Regions from separate parts of the Homo sapiens genome. Here region 2 is linked to region 1. A link means that fine-mapping ties the variant in region 1 to the expression of a gene that starts in the linked region. Tissue or cell type: whole blood. Region 1 holds a variant in brackets; the other region holds the start of a gene. All regions are shown on one strand. Distances are between the middles of the regions.

Region 1 (8,184 bases):
CTAGGGAAAAGTAAATAATCAGGGATTCTTGATGGGGCAAGAGAGTGGGGACCTTAAGTTGGAATCAGGTCAGACAACTGTGATTACTCCCAGCTAGAGGAGGAACAGGAGGCCCCAAACCACCAGCAGCGCATGGGCACCAGCTGGTCTGTGGGGCTTGATCTGGTGAAGGCCTGGCCCAGCTTTGCTCTGGGCACCCAGACACCCAGCAGTGTTTGTTATATGAATGCATCAACTCCCCTGCCTTCCTCTCCCTCCTTCCCTCCTTCAGCAGGACATGAACAGATTAGGAATTGTACTCCAAATGATACTTGCTTTTTGTAAGGCGTCTCAGGCTTTTTAGAACGTTGTACTGGTCCTCCCAAGAACTCCTGGAGTTGTCAGGTTCTAGACTTCTAATTGGGAACTGAAAAATAGACAGGCCAAGGGACTTCCCTAATGGGACAGCACAGAAGAGGGCAGAGGTGGAGCCCAGAACTGGGGGCAAGAAGGGAGGGACAGGCCTGGGCCAGCCCATCAGCCCAGATGTGATCTGGGAGTCTGCAGAGATGGGCACGGCTGAGGGGGTGGGGCAGGGTCAAGGTCCCAGGAAATACCAGCAGGTAGGTCTGGGAAGGGAGAGAATCCCAGTGCCAGCATTTTTCGTTACTGTCTCGATCATTAGTTAACATACTTATCAGTGAACACTTTAGTAACCAGCGGAGGAAGATACACTGAGAATCAGAACAAAGACCAAAAGTTATAACCAAAGTTATAAAGCCCTCGTTCCTCCTCCTGCCAGCAGGTCCCCTGGGAATGCCAGGCCCAGGGGCCACCACAGGAAGGTAGAGAGCTGTCTGCATCGTGGAGTGGGCTTTCCAGCTCCAGGTGGGTCACCTGCCTCTAGGATTCTTTCTCTCCCACAGAAAAACAGAACTTACTGCTGGTCTTCTCCTTGGAGATAGGGAAGGGCATTACAGAGACTTGCCTCCAGAGACGGAGACAAGGTATGATGTGTGTATTATTAGACAGTCTGGGGGTGAAGGGGTGAAAAGATGACACAATCCAGAGGGGTTGGCCTCGGTGCCCATCACACCCAGCTCTAAGACCCAGTAAGAAATGAAGAAGTGAATTGTTCTTCACCCACCTTCCCCTCAAGGAGTTCATGCTTTGGAGCTGTAAACAATGAGTTATTTTTGCCTCCCCTTAGAAAATCTGAGCATCTCTTTTCTACACCACCCCAGGGAGTTCTGTGAGGGTCAGCTTCATACATTCAAAACCAGCTTATGTCCCATCCCCAGAAAGTGAACAACTTCTAGTCATGCCAATGTCGGGGCTCCGGATTGCACGTCTCCTCCCGGAGCCGGGACCCCTGGTAAAATCGCTACACGTTCATTCTCTCTCTCTCTCTCTCACACACACATTCTCTCTGTTCTCCCTCCCTCCCCTCCCCTTCTCTCACACTCAACCCAACCCCAGCAAGAAGCATTGCACAGACAGAGGACGCTGTTTCCCAGTTGAAAGGTCACCAAGGGACAGGGTGATCTGCCAGGCAGTTCCTGAGCTTGCTCTTGGGACGGCCTTTTGGGGGCAAAGCACTTTGGAGCCAGAAGCAACCCCTGCCTGGGCTGAGGCCCTGTGGGCCTCGCTCCACGACTGTCACACCTTGCCCACCACTGGAGAGATGGCCGCTGCCCGTGGACTCCCTGGCAGCCATGTGGTTGCCCAGCCCAGGGGGCCTTCAGAAAGGTGACCTTGCACCGGCCAAGGCCCGTGGGCAGGCTAGGCTATGGCCTGTAGATCTTAATGACGTCCTTGATGGGCCGCCGGCAGATGGGGCAGCAGGCCCGGGCCTGTCGCTTGAGCCGCAGGCCGCAGCTGTGGCACAGGCACATGTGTCCACACGTGTAGATGACCGTGTCCACCTCGCCATCGAAGCACACCGTGCACTCGCCATTCTTGATGCCTGCCGGCTCCGGTGGGGAGAACACGGGGGACACCGGGGGGCTCAGCGGGGAGCTGGGGGCCGTCACTGCCGAAAGGGAGAAGAGGACATATGTTAACAATGTCTCTCTCAGGTGGGCTCTGTTGGGGCAACCCCGAGAATGCAGGGCTTCTTGCTGGGACCGGTGGGAGAATACTTTTGGGAGATACTAATTTGAGTTTACCTTGCAGGTTTTGCACCTTTCTCTACTCTTCTACTCCCAAACACCAAGATAAAATGCCACCATCGTCACCCTTTGGAATGCCCTATCTAGACACTTCTCCTCCCTCCAGCTGAGCATACAGCTGAGGGAAGGAGAGGATGCGGGGGAAAGGCGGCCACCCTGCTCAGTCCCTGGAAGGCCACTGGCACAGCCGGAGGAGCCAGGCCAGCCGCCAGCCCCTGCCCCTGCCAGGGTTTGCATTTCCTTACCCAGGGATGACTCAGATGCCGAGGAGGACTGGTTGACACTGAAGGTCATATCTGAATCACTATCGTCCTGGGAGCCGCTGAGGGACCCTGATGGAGTCGTGGTCGCAGGGCTGGACTGCAGGGTACCTGAGGCCCAAAGAGATTCCATCAGGGGCAGTGGAAGGTTGGACCTGCCCTGCTAGTCCATGGTTCTTCACTGCTTTGCACCTTAGCTTTCCCGTCTAACGAGAGGACCAGAGGTATCTCCCAGGGTTCTGCTGAGGAGTGAAGAGTGCATCCCAGTGTGGTGCCTCTGTTCTTTGTCTACCAGGCCTCTATTCTCTTCTCTTTCAGAAACAGCCCTGGGATGTTCTTTTGGGATACTAATGTGCCCTCCCTCATAGGATAAGGGCCAGGCCAACAGGAACTTCCACTCTCTGGTCTCAATAGTGGTGGTTCAGGAAAGGGCACATAACCCCCGTAAGGCCCGAGACCCAATTCTGCAACTTTTACTGGAACTACTAGGAAAGAAGGAACTCATTCCATTCATTGGGAAGGAAGCCTGGAGCTGGAAGAGCCAACCCGTGGCAAAGGCCTGCCTGAGAGTGATGCCAACACAGAGGCAAGCAGAGCTTTGAGTTGGAAAGAGAGGTAGGATCCTGCTGATATCCTTCCAGTACCTAGATCCAGCTATTCCTGAACTCACCCAATATACTCCCAGACATTTCCTTTTTTGCTTAGGGCACTTTGAGTGGGGTTTTGCCCCTTGCGAGAAGATCCCTGACTACTAGTGCTCAACATGGATGAGTTTTCTTCCCCAAGCTTGCTGTTGGTTCAGACAATAACAGCTTGTTTCTTAGGATGAAAAGATGCCCCTTCCCTTGCCCTACCTGAGGATGAATGGACAGATAATGGGCACTTCGTCTCGGGCTGAAATGATGACTATGTCTGATGGTTCCTCAAAAACACAAAACAACACAACTTCCCCCTCCCCAAAAAACACTCTGACCAAATAACCACACTGCCACCCGGCTCCTCCTCTGCCCTCATGAAGACAGCAACAGCTGCTGTTGTTACTGTTACCACTGATTAAACCAGTGTCAGGCCCCGCTCAAGGCATTATATGCACATGATTTCATCCTCATGACAACCCCATGAAGCAGGTATCACTCTCTTTCTACAGAAGGAAACAGGCTCAGGAGAATCTGTGATTTGTCCAGCATCTTCAAAGCTGACCAGCGATGTGACCCTGGGATAGTCATTTAATCTCTCTGTGCTCATTATCTTATCTGTAGGTGGGGATAATGATACTGATTTCAATAGAGTCAAAGGGAGGATAAAATTCAATGAGGGAACATATGAGCTGTTGACTGCTTCTTATTGCTTGGACTCTACTTTTTGAGCCATGAAGTTGGAGCCAGGCTCTCTGGGAAGCCTTCTCTGAACATCTCCTTCACTCCACCAAGCTGGGAGAGGAGCCCCCGGCTGTAGCAAATGTCACACCGTGCAACTCTCCTTTAGGGTGTCTGTGAGCTCCTAACCGGCATGGAGTGTGTCCTGTCCTCTGCTGGCCCTATCCTGGTGCCCAGGGCCCGGCCCACAGCTGGTGGCTGCTCCTGCCTATTTGTGGCATGAATGAAGGCAAAAATTATCTCAAAATAGGATGGTTCAGGCCTCCATTCCACTTTCTGTGGACGATACTATTCTTATTTCCTCTTTCATGTGCAGTCGAATTTATTTTTTCCCTACACTTACTGTGCATTACATGTTAAAAACACCCTAATGTAACAAATCGTAACAACGGAACTAAAAATCGCACCGACCATTTACCGAGGGGATATAGCCTGCCAAGCTCGGAGATAAGCCGGTTACCTATCTAGGTCGGTGGTTTACAAAATGTGGTCCAGAGAGCCGCAACGTCAGCATCTCCGGGCACTTGTCGGAAATGCACGTTCTCGGGGCGCACCGTG[C/G]ACCCACTGAATCCGGAACTCTGGGGTGGAGTCCGGCAATTTTGGACGGGGTGGATCGTGCCCGGGCGCTTAAAGTTGGGAACCGCGGGCTGGCCTCGGGCGGTGCAGCGCCTAGCGAGAGGGGCGGGGCCGGGGAAGAGCGCAGCGGGGTGAGACGGCACGGGACGGGGGAGGGGCGGGGCCTCGCGCACGCGGGGCCGGGGACTCACCGAGGAGACGCAGCTGGCCCGCGACGCCGCCGCGCACGGCGAAGAAGGCCCAGAGCGCCTGCGTGGTGTCGACGCACAGCAGGCGGCCGCGCGGACGCCCGTTGATGCCCAGGAGCACGTCGCCGCCGGGCCGCAGCGTGAAGCTGAGCGCGTCGCCGCCGCTCGGCACGGGCCCGGCGCGCGCCACCACCCAGTACTCTTTGCGGTCGAGCAGCGCGTCTGGGTCGGCGGGCAGCTCGTTGGGCCGTAGCACGCCCGGGTCGCACGACGTGATGCCGAAGGCCAGCGCGCCGGGCGCCGCCAGCCCCGGACGGCCCACCTCCACGAAGAGGCTCTCGCCGGGCCGCAGCGGGCGCTCGGAGAAGACCAGCGTGCGGCCGCCGTCGGGCCGCGGTGCGCAGGCCACTTTGCGGTCGGCCGACAGGCTCACGTCGGGCCCGCGTGTTGCGTGGAAGCGCAGGTCGGCCTCCAGTAGCGCCGGCGACGACGCGGGCCGCGGGCGCTCACGGGGCCCGCACGGAATGGCGGCGGCCGCGGCGTCGGCTGGCGGTGGGCCCGGGGCGCGGCCCAGCGCCAGGTGGCCCAGCTTGGCCACCACCTGGTTGTTCTCGAGCTCGTTGTTGTCGAAGTTGGCCGCGTCGTGGCTGCTGGGCGGCAGGCAGGCGCTGAAGCGGGCCTGGCTGAGGCGCGCGGGCGTCAGCGTGTCAGCGAAGGCGCTCTCTGTGCGGACAAAGGGAGGGACATGGAGGGGGAGAGGCCGCGCGTCAGGCTGGTCGCGAGCCCCTCCTCGCCCGCTGCCTCCTGCAGGCCTCCACGACCGACCCGGGCCTCGAGCAGCCCCCACCCCACCCCGGCTTCGAACTCTCCTTTTGTCCATCTGTGTTATTTAGTGAGTCACAGGAGCACAGAATTGCATTAAGCACCATCCTCGGTTTCCTTGACATGCTCTTACCTTTGGGAGCGGCAGATAAGGCCCTTTTTCCCCTGCCTCCTCCTTTCTCTTCTTCCATCCCTCCTTTTCTCTCCACCCTTTCCCCTTCTCTCCCTCTTTCCGAGGTTTCCATACTTTGATCATTAAAAGGGCATCTAAAAATCGTTTATTGTCCGTCTCCCCAACTAGAACATAAGCTCCAATAAAAAGAGCAAACCTGTACTCGTGGCCTTACGCAACGGGCACTTCTAAGCTTTCGCGCGCTACCTCATTTAATTTACACAACCACTCTGTGAGGCATGTACGGTTACTGCCTGCTATTGAGCTCACAGGGAAACTGAGGCACAGAGGGGTTGGGGAACATGACCAAGGGCACATGGCTACTAAGTGGCAAAGCCCCGACTTGAACCCATGAGTTGAACCCAGGCTGTCTGGCTCTAGAGTCTGGGCTCTTCAACACATGCTGCCTCTGAAAGAAGGGAGGACCTGGGTCTGTCCTCACTGCTGTGTTCACAGCACAGAGCACAGTGCCTGGCCCTGGATAGGTGTTTAAGCATTGACAGAAAAAAGTCTACGGGAGATTGAGTCAGTTGATAAAACTAAATGAAGGGAAAAGAAATTTTTTTTTTTTGAGATAGAGTTCCGCTCTTGTCACCCAGGCTGGAGTGCAATGGCGCGATCTCGGCTCACTGCAACCTCTGCCTCCTGGGTTCAAGTGATTCTCCTGCCTCAGCCTCCCGAGTAGCTGGGATTACAGGTGCCTGCCACCACTCCCGGCTTAATTTTTGTATTTTTAGTAGAGACGGAGCTTTGCCATGTTGGCCAGGCTGGTCCTGAACTCCTGACCTCAAGTGATCTGCCCACCTTGGCCTCCCAAAGTGCTGGGATTATAGGCGTGAGTCAGCACGCCCGGCCGAAGGGAAAGTTCTTTAAAAGTTACAGTTATGAAAATATTTTAAAGTACTTTTTAGTGATTTGAAAAAATGTTCTTCATATGACATAGGTAAAAAAGCAAAAATAGTGTTTATCATTTGGGTAATACAGGTATTCGTACTTTAGTAGATTACCTGTTTATTTTCTGCCTCCCTAGCTGGAATATGAGTCTCTTGAGGGCAGGGTCTGTGTCAGTCTGGTCACCACCATGTTCTCAGGGCTTGGCAAATAGCCTTCACTATTAATAGTTTATTGGATGAATGAAGGAACGACTAAGGTCTAGAAGAGACTGCTATGCTAAATAACAACAACATCAGGAAAGAGTCATTAAAATATTGTGAAGGTGTTTTTTAGTGATACAAACATTTTTGTTTACCATAATAGGAAAATAAGTGTTTTAGACTTTTTAAACAGACCACTTTGAGCCAAGATTTTGTTAAATGTTACCATTCTATAGTGTCTTGAAAAATATTTCCTCTTTAGTTTTCCAAATATGAAATGAAATCATAAGAATGCACATGCTTTTTCGAATTATGCCCCAGGCCCCGGTGGGTCCAAATGCACCCCCTCAGACACCTTTCACTTAAACTGGATTTATAGCACTTGGGAAACCAGTAAATCTGGCAGTAGGACCTGAATTCTGCCCTGGCCACAATGGGCTAAAGAAGCTTGCCCTTGTATTGAGGTGGTTTGATCTCTCTTGATGTGCCTGAGGTGGCCCTCTTCAAGGTCTCAGCAAAAGGGGTCAGCTACTTGTTTGGACTCTGGGCATCTGAGTGTGTATGCTTTGCCTTAGCGAGGGTGCTTCCCATAGCTCGAGGGAAGAAGTGGGGTTTCAGTTTGTTTCTTTAAAAAAGTACATATGTGTGCATTTGTCTACATCTGTCTGTATCATTTTATTTATGTGCATAGGAAATCAAGTGATGGAGAGACAAAATATTAATAGTAATTATCTCTTGGGGTGAGATCATGAAGGACTTTTCTTTAGATTTTTCTGTATTATCTAGTTTTCCTTCAATAAACTTGTATGCTACTGATATGGTTTGGATTTGTGTCCACCCAAATCTCATGTCAAATTGTAATCCCTAGTGTTGGAGGTGATTGGATCATAGGAGTGGACTTCCCCTTTGCTCTTCTCATGATAGCGAGTTCTCACGAGATCTGGTTGTTGAGAAGTGTAGCACCTCCCCCACTTCACACTCTTCCTCCCTCTCTGGCCGAGTAAGCTGTGCCTACTTCCCCTTCACCTTCTGCCATGATTGTAAGTTTCCTAAGGCTTCCCCAGCCGTGCTTCCTGTACAGCCTGCGGAACCAAGAGCTAATTAAACCTCTTTCTTTTACAAATTATCCAGTCTCAGGTGGTTCTTTATAGCAGTTCAAGAACAGACTAATACAGCTACAAATTTTTATGGGAAAAAATATTTTTAAAAATTGAGTTTTCAATTAATATTTAATAATATGGGAAAATACCTATGATATAACATCAAATGAACAAAACATTCAAAACTGAACACATGGTTTGATTCTACTTTTGTGGAAAATGTGTGCATAGGATTCATAGGAAAAATATAGAAATACATTAAAATGTGAGTGGTTATCTCTGGGTAGAAATTTGCTTCTTATAGTTTTCTAGTTTTCTCTTTTTCTCTAATGAACATAAATTGATTTTTATAATCAGAAAAAAGGCATATAAATAAAGGTAGAATAAAACAAGCACTTTTTTTGAAAAGGCATTTTAGACAAGTACGTGTTTCTGGAAGTGTCGGT
Region 2 (8,172 bases), 44 kb after region 1:
TGGAAAGAGAGTGTAGAGCACACAGTAGGAGCTTAGTAGATGTGAGGTCCTGTGCTGCACGTTCTGTTTAAAGGGCATTTCTCTGAATATGCTGATGCACTTTGCAAGAGCTGCCAAGAGGCTTCCGCAATCGATCATAAACAACCTTCCCTTTCTTTGGCATTTCCTTATTGTATAGTGTAGCATGCCACGTGCATGGTGGGGAACCCAATAAATGTTATCTAAATCACGGGCTGGGAGGCCACAGCATGTCAGAATAAGAATGCAGGACTTTGGAGCTAAGTTAACCTAAATTGCAATCCCAGTTCTGCCAACTAGGTGAACTGTGTGAGCTGGGACAAGCCACTTTACCTCTCTGAGCCTCGGCTTCTCAACTGTAATATGGAGATGATAATGCCTACATTGCAGGGATGTTAGAAGAATTAAATTCATCCATTCATCCCATCCAACACGTACTTACTGAACATTTACTCTGTACTAGCCACTGCTCCAGGTGCTAAACGTATAGCAGTGAATAAAACAGACAAAATCTCCCTGGGGGAGACAGACAAGAAACTGCTAACTACACATACAGCGTGTCGCATAGTGACACGTGCTAAGGAGAAACTTAAAGCTGGGTCAAAGGAGTGAGTGGGGTTGGGGCAACAGCAGGCCCCTCGTTCAAGCAGAGACCCCAAGGAAGCCTGGTGGGAGCCATGGGGAGGAGGGCAGAAGAATGTGCCGGGGAGAGGGATCAGGAAGTGCAGAAGCCTTGAGGAGAAGCATGCTTGGCGTGTAAATGAAGCCACATATGCAGGAAGCCTGGCATGGAATCCAGGTGCTCAGCAAATGCCAGCTCTCTATTTCAAGTCCCGCAGAAAGAACCCCACGCATGTGTCCTTTTCCTGAGAACGAAAGCACAAGGATTCTACAGGGCAAGACTGTGCCAAGTGTTCCTTCAGCCTAAGATTCAGGCAACATTCGAGCTCCACCACCAGTTTTTGAGCCCTTGCCAGGCACCAGTCTCTGGGATGGGCAACCAGGGATACAAGATGATCAAGACAAGGGCTCTGTCCTCAGGGAACCGCAAAGAGTCACAGAGACAGGCAGTGACAATGCAGTCATTGCAACGATGAGCAGGAAAGGACTTCAGGCATCCAGATAGCAGAGCAAAGGATGAGACTGTGGGTGGTCAGGGAAAGCTTCCTGGAGGAGGTAACGACAACTGGATTTTGAAAGGCAGACTAGACAAGAAAGGACAATCCATGCATGGGGACCATCACATGCCAAGCACAGAGGTACAAAAAACAGCACAGGGTGTGCAAGAAACTCATACTGGTAGGTCGGAAAACAATTAACGGCCCTTCATATTCTTGGCATCTGCCACCCGATGTGACTCAGGAATTCCGGTTCTGACCCCTTCCTCAAACTCAGTGCAAGCTTCAATCCCCAGAGAAGAGTCTGAATTCCCCATACTTAGACACTGCAGTGGGTAACCAACCTTAACTGCCGGCTCCCAGACTAGGGTGGCCCAGTCCACAGAGAGAGAGTTGAGAGGGATGGAGAATACATAAATCTCTAGCTATATTTAGCCTGCCTGGCGTGTGTCTGTCCCTTTACGCACCCCAGGGCTGACCCACAGGTGGCAGAATGGCTTTTTACTAGAATAGTATAAACATTTTTAAATTAAGAAACCAAGGAAAGGGGCCTGTGCCGAGGTGCCTCATCCCAGTGTCTATGTGGCGAGAATATCTGCTGCCCTATTTGCCAACATCCCCAGATATCTCCTGACCCGCGGGTGGGTTCTCCCCCAACCTGGCAATAGCCCTGTCCACAGGAGGTAGAGGCCACCCTCCAGTAAGCAGACCTGGGTTCTAATCCCACCTCTGCCACTGACTAGCTGGTGACTCTGCTGATGATTACAGCTCTCTGGGAATTTGAACGTTTGAGTGCAGTTGCTCAGAGGCTTGTAAAGTAGGAGTTGGCTCCTCTTCCATAAGCTGACCCTGGGAATCCTGGGCTCAGCACTGTCCACTTCAACCCGCTCCAGGGGAAATTATTCTTTAAGAGCATGTAATGCCTAGAAGGGAGAGCTATATGGGAGTGTTATAGCAGAGATGGGGTGATATGTCCCTCTTCCAGAACCTCACACTAAATTAACCTCACAGCTGACTTGCTTCCCCATTGAGCCGAGCCTTTGTGCTTTAGACACACACACACTCCTCTCACCTTTTGCCCAAAGGATGCTACAAAGGCCCAGCCTTAAGACAAAATACTTCTAAATACTTGGGCGTGTGAGGGGAGGGAGGGCAGAGAGACACAGGTCCCACTCCAGATTCTCCCACTACTAGCTGTGTGACCTTGGGTGAGTCATTTCACCTCTTCTGACACTCAATTTTTTTATTTGTAAAACTGGGATACACATCTTTATCGCGAAGCTTCTTTGCATACCGAGCTGGGGTATGCAAAGTGCTGGGCACTGAACCTCCACGGGCACGCGCGGGCGCGGGACCGCTGATCTGTTCCCACAATTACCATGTATTTTCCAGTAAGGCCTCCTCCTACCCCGTTAACCTGCTCCGGATCCCCTCACTCCGGTCCCAGAAATTCTGGGGCGATTTTAACTAGGGGGCGATGCGATCTGCAGCAGCGACTCCGAGGGGGCGAAGGAGTCCCCAGTGGAGCGGACACCAGAGGGGGGCGCAACCGGGGTGCGCGTGGGAACGTGGCCAAAGCACGGCAGCATGTGCCGCGGGGGCGCTGGGAGGCTGGAAACTGGGGTGCCCCTGAGAGCACCCCTCACTCTCGGCAGCTGCAGTCTTGGCACCACGGGTGGCTTCTGACCGTCGGAAGCCCTGGCGAGCCCGGCTCCAGTCACCCCCACCCAGGTCGCCTTGAGTTTGCTCATCAGCGCCCTCGGGCTGGAACAAAGGCGAGGGGGCGCGCGGCATCGCCCCAGCGGCCCTTTTTGCGCATCTGGCCAAAGCCGGGAGAATGAGGACTGGGGTCCCCAAGGTAACCAGGACGCGGTACCCGCCCTCCCGGGGCGCAAAGCCCAGCCGCGGGGCGCGCGCCGAGCTGAGGTCCGGGAGGTACCGGAGACTCCAGCCCGCTGCGAGCCGAGGGCTCCAAGGGCCGTGGGGTAGCTCTCCAGAGTCACCCAGCGGGTCCCCCGGAGGAGAGAAGCCCGGCGCCCGCCTCCCGGGCAGGGCTCCCCGGCGTACCTGGCAGGGTCCGGTGCACCGTGTTGCCCATCGCTGCGTCGGGCGCGGCGTTGGCGGCGGCGCGCTCTGGGCGCGCGGAGGCTAATTACGCGGCGGGCCAGGGACCAGGACCGGGGTCGACGCTCCGGGGCATCGCAGCTGCACGGGCGAGCCGGCGGGCGGCAGCTGGGGCGGGAGCCGGGAGGGAGGCGGCGGCGGCGCCTGCGGGAGGAGGAGGCGGAGCCACCGGCCCGGGCCCGCCGGCTCCGCCCCCGCCTCCCACCGCCTCCAACAGTGCAGGGGCGGGGCCGCGGCCGCCGCATCTTTTGAAAGTTTGCACCAGGCGGCGGGAGAAGCACAGCCAAGCCTCCCGCCCTCGCCGCTCCCGCGCCCGGGCCGGGAAGGCGCGCAGGGCAGCTGGGTGCCCTCGGGTGCCAGGATCGGCAGTCTGCTGGCCTGTCACCCATTTGTTCTAACACTTTGAGAAGGCCCACTGTGTGCCAGGCCCTCTTCCAGGCGCGGGGCCCCAGCCGGCCGAGTCCTAGCCCCGGCAGACCTCTTTGGAGAGTGCTTCGGCCCCGGGGGAACTTACACAGAGGCAGACGGGCCCCTGGGACCATGTAAAGGGCTTGGAGACAGTACACCCAGGGTTCCCGGGTTTGGGTGGAGTCTTTTCTATCCCCTAGGCCAGGTACCGAGGAATAGAAGAAACCCAGTGTCCAAAGATTGGGAAGAGGGAACCCACATTCATTAATTTATTCGCTCATTCACTAAAATATTTATTGAGCACAGTCTATGCACCAGGCACTGTGCTGGGCCGGGTAGATACAGACAAGGTCCCCACTGCCCTGGAGATGGCATGCTGAAGATAGAAATAACAAGCAATTACGATCACATTATATAATAATCAAAGCCAGGAAGAAAATAAAACAGATCCCAGTAGAGTGAGGAGATGACATTGTTTGGGGGCATAGGGAGAATCTGGGGTGGGGGCACATAAGCTCCATCTGATGGACTAGAAGGCGTCGGCCATGAGAAGAGATAGGTAGAGTGTTCCTGGCAGAGGCAGTAACAGGCATTCCTCATTCAGGCACCTGGACCACACTCAGTGGGAAGTGCAGCTGTGCCCTTCTCGAGCTCCATTTCACAGGCTGGAACGCTGAGGCCCAGGAAGTGCAATGACTTCCCCAAGAAGACCCGATTCCAAATGAGCTGTTTTTTTCAATTCTATTTTTCATGCTCTTGTATCCCTTGAGACTTTATGAAATATGTATTATTACTTCCATTTCACAGATAGGGAAATTGAGGCTCTGAGAGTGGAAGAGAGGTGCCCAAGATCTTCCAATGGTACAGGGCAAAGCTAGCCTGAAGCTATGCGAATAAAAGCGGGGTATTCAGGAGACAGCCTTCTGCATCTCCGGTGCCTTCTGCTTACAGTACATGACCCATCCCAGAGGGTTCTAGGGTCTTTAAGGCCAGCTCCAAGCTTCCACTTCCGGGAAACCTTGATTCCCCACTCCCCCCTGACGTCATATGTCTGAACATAAGATTGCCTTGCATTTGAGTTACTAATTTCTCATATTACAGGTGCTCGCCCAGTGACTTAATTTTTAACCCCAAAGTTCTGTTTGAGAAAGGTCCGTTAGCGTGATCCTTTTTTTTTTTCTTTTTTTTTTTGAGACAGAGTCTCACTCTGTCACCCAGGCTGGAGTGGAATGGCACAATCTTGGCTCACTGCAACCTCTGCCTACCAAGTTCAAGCAATTCTCCTGCCTCAGCCTCTTGAGTAGCTGGGATTACAGGCACCCACTACCACGCCCCGCTAATTTTTGTATTTTTAGTAGAGATGGGATTTCATCATGTTGGCCAGGCTGGTCTCAAACTTCTGACCTCAAGCGGTTCCCCCACCTCAGCCTCCCAAAGTGCTGGGATTACAGGCCTAAGCCACCTCACCTGGCTGATCCTCCTTTAATCTATGTGACATTGGGTTGCATATGGAGGTCAGCAATATTATAAAGGGAATTGAGGGAATTTTCCTCAGATAAGGCAATGCAAACAAATATGACTTTGTGACGGCAAGGGTGAGAGGTTGTGAACAGGCCTTTTAAAGGCCACTTTCAGAGTACCTCAGTAAGTGGCCATGTTGTGCAGATCACAAATACTCACCTGCAGCAAATGAATCCCTACTGTCAAAATGTGATGCGGATTGGACCTGCGGTGGAGACACTGTGCCCAGCAGTTGCCTGACATGTGGATTCGAAAGGGCTGTGTGTTAGCCTCTGGATCTCTGAGAGTAGGACCTGCTCTAGTAAAAAGCTGCCCCCAACACACACGATGGTGACACTAGTGTCAAAGCCACACAGAAAAGAATTAGAATCAAATTGTTTCCTGAAATTTGAAACTGCCAAAAGCAATCTTTCCATATTAGTATTCTCTATGAGAATAATTGCAAATATGTTTATATAACTAAAGTAATAAATGAAATATTTCAAGTAGATGTCTATTTCATCTTCACCCCATTAAGTTTATATTATTCAATAAGAAAGTGCATCTTCTCATAGGGAGAATGGGGATTGCCTGTAATCTTTACTTGGATTACCTTATATTTGGGCACATACAGCAGTTGCTCACCCATCTGAGATCCCTCTGCACTTTGTGCTGTCCCCTCAATTACACCCTCAAGACAGGTGTTGTAGCTGTTACCTTTGCGTCCTCTCCACTGCCAGACAGGATGCTCCTGCAGGCAGGAAGAAGGCTGTAATCATCTAGGAAACCCCAGTGCCCAGAACAGGGCTGGCAGACACAGGTGCTCAATACACATTTGCATAAATTGACTGCAGAGATGCATTGCCCTGAGCTGAGAGAAAAACAGAAAAGAAGGAGAGAGGGAAGAAAGAAGGAATGGAGAAAGGTAATAAGAAGGGAGAGGAGAGAAAGAGCTGTGAGAGAATGAGTTTTTGCCATTAGTAGCCCTAGACCCTGGTGTGATGAATAGTAATATGTGCAGGGAAAAATAAGCAAATGAGCAAAATAGGGATGCATTAACAGAAATATAGTCTTTAGGACAAAGGAGGGGCTTGCTGCTCCAGTGCATGTTGGTTAGACCATTCCAGAAGTCGCTTTGGCTCTGGGCACCACACTAGAGAAGGAGGACAAAGCTAGTCCACGAAGGTGGAAGGGTGGCTTTGGGAGAGAGGGAGATCCCTGTCCCAGGAGGTGTGCAAATAGAAACCATATATTTCCTGCCAGGCAGTTGAGGAGGGGCTTCCTGAGTCACATGTCTTCTAAAGTATACCTTCCAGTACAATCATCCACTGAGCCCCTACAACCCACATGAAGCCATGGGGGTGATTTATGGTTTGAGGTTTATGAGTCTGATTGGTCCTGCCTCTACTGACCCTGAGAGGACTGCAGAGGTGCTCCCCTGTCTTTGCAGCTTGTGTACCAAGCTGATCTCCTGGGATGTGGGCCTCCCATTTTTGTTGCCTCTCCCAATCTCACCTCTTCCCACTAGCTCCCAAGCAGGGCTGGCCGGGACACTGTGGAAATGCTGTCTGCATGTATTAGGGGCCTGGGATCCAGGCACTATGTCTAACAGCAACAAGGGAAGGGAAGGGACTGTTGGACTCAGCACCTGCCGCACAGGAGACTTTATAACCACAGGGATGGAATGTGAATCTCTTCCTTCTCCAAATATTATAGTCATACCACATCCAAGGAGATAGGTTCTAGCATCCCCATTTTCCAAACGAGGACACCAAGCCTCAGACAGGTAAAGTCACATGCCTAAGTCTCTGCAGCTGCTAAGAGGAGTTGGGATGTGAACCTACGTGTGCCCATATCCAAGCCTCATCTTCTAAGCAGTGTCCCTTAAAGTTAGAGAGGACAGCTCTGCCCAGGCGCCAAGGCGGCAGGACACCAGGGCTGCAGAGGAACGGGTGGGGTCTCAGAACCAGAACCCGCAGACACTAACGGCTGCCATAGAGCCTGTGGGGCAGAGCATGGGGTGGGGACATCTTCCGGCCCGGGCAGCAGCCTCCAGTCACAGCAGCTCCTGGATTTGACTTTCACACACATACACATCTCTACCAATCACATCCAGAATTGCACAGACTGTGCCACCCTCCTTTAGCACCAGTACCCATACATGGGCTGCAGGGGCCTCTGGGTGGGGCTGTCTCTCTTGATTATGCAGCGTCAGCAGAGCCTCCCGGGGCAGTTGGTAGTGGGAGTGCCCTGGCCGGGCTCCCTGGCATTGCTCCCTGGGGGCATGCCCTGGCAGGCCCTGCCCCATGCAATAACAGGCAATCAGGTGCATGTTGTAAAAAGGGTGCACACTGAGCTGCTGTGCCAGGCTAGGGGGTATGCCCACTGCAGATACCTGCGTGAAATGACCCCTTCCTTCAGGGTGTTTGCCCAGCCTCCTCCTCACAACTCAAGAGCCGAGTATCTGCAGTCACACTGCAAAGCTCGGTTTTAAAATGGCTGCAGGAAGGCTGTGCTTTTCTACAAACCCTGACTACGAAACCTTCAATTTCCAACAGATCTTTACCTGAAAAAGCATCATTTTTCAGTTGCTGGTTACAAAGTGCCAGCCGCATAGTGGGCCCCACGCTACACCCTCTGAGTGATCCTTGTCCCAGCATGGCGGCATGGTCATTAACACAAGTCAATTCCCATTTTGCAGGAGAGGAAGCTGAAGCTCAGAGATGGAAAAGAGCTGCCCAGGTCACACAGCTAGAAGGGGGCAGAACTCAGAGGGTTCTTAGTCCTCTCTGCAGAGGAAACAAGCTCCGGTGATGAGGCCACTTGCTTGATGTAGCACAGCAGTGAGCAGAGGAGCCAGGAGCCGGCATCCCTCGGGCTTCAAAACCAGCGCTCCAATAGCAAAGTCATTGAACCAAACTAAGTGTCCATCAACAGTTGATTTGACAAAGAAAATGTGGTACATATACACTGTGGAATACCATGCAGCCATAAAAAAGGATGA

Evidence for each region. PIP is the estimated chance that this variant, and not a neighbour inherited with it, causes the effect.
Region 2: it holds the start of NEURL1B, and the variant in region 1 is fine-mapped to the expression of NEURL1B in whole blood (TOPMed, PIP above 0.99).

Annotation. Positions count from the first base shown.
Region 1 is chr5:172,680,508-172,688,691 of GRCh38, reverse strand. It overlaps NEURL1B (neuralized E3 ubiquitin protein ligase 1B), which reads right to left. Exons shown (of 5, transcript NM_001142651.3): 3 at 4,554-5,273; 4 at 2,396-2,521; 5 at 1-2,011. The coding sequence ends at 1,767. It overlaps LOC107986479 (a long non-coding RNA gene), which reads left to right. Exons shown (of 3, transcript XR_001742997.1): 3 at 2,155-2,387. Among named protein-coding and RNA genes, the nearest start is that of MIR5003, 22 kb to the right of the region's middle. RefSeq lists enhancers at 4,514-5,014, 5,015-5,515. The variant C/G (reference allele first, on the strand shown) is at 4,345.
Region 2 is chr5:172,636,469-172,644,640 of GRCh38, reverse strand. NEURL1B (neuralized E3 ubiquitin protein ligase 1B) reads right to left here and starts at 3,378. Exons shown (of 5, transcript NM_001142651.3): 1 at 3,204-3,378. The coding sequence starts at 3,234. It overlaps LOC107986478 (a long non-coding RNA gene), which reads right to left. Exons shown (of 3, transcript XR_001742996.2): 3 at 6,163-8,172. RefSeq lists a silencer at 3,327-3,616.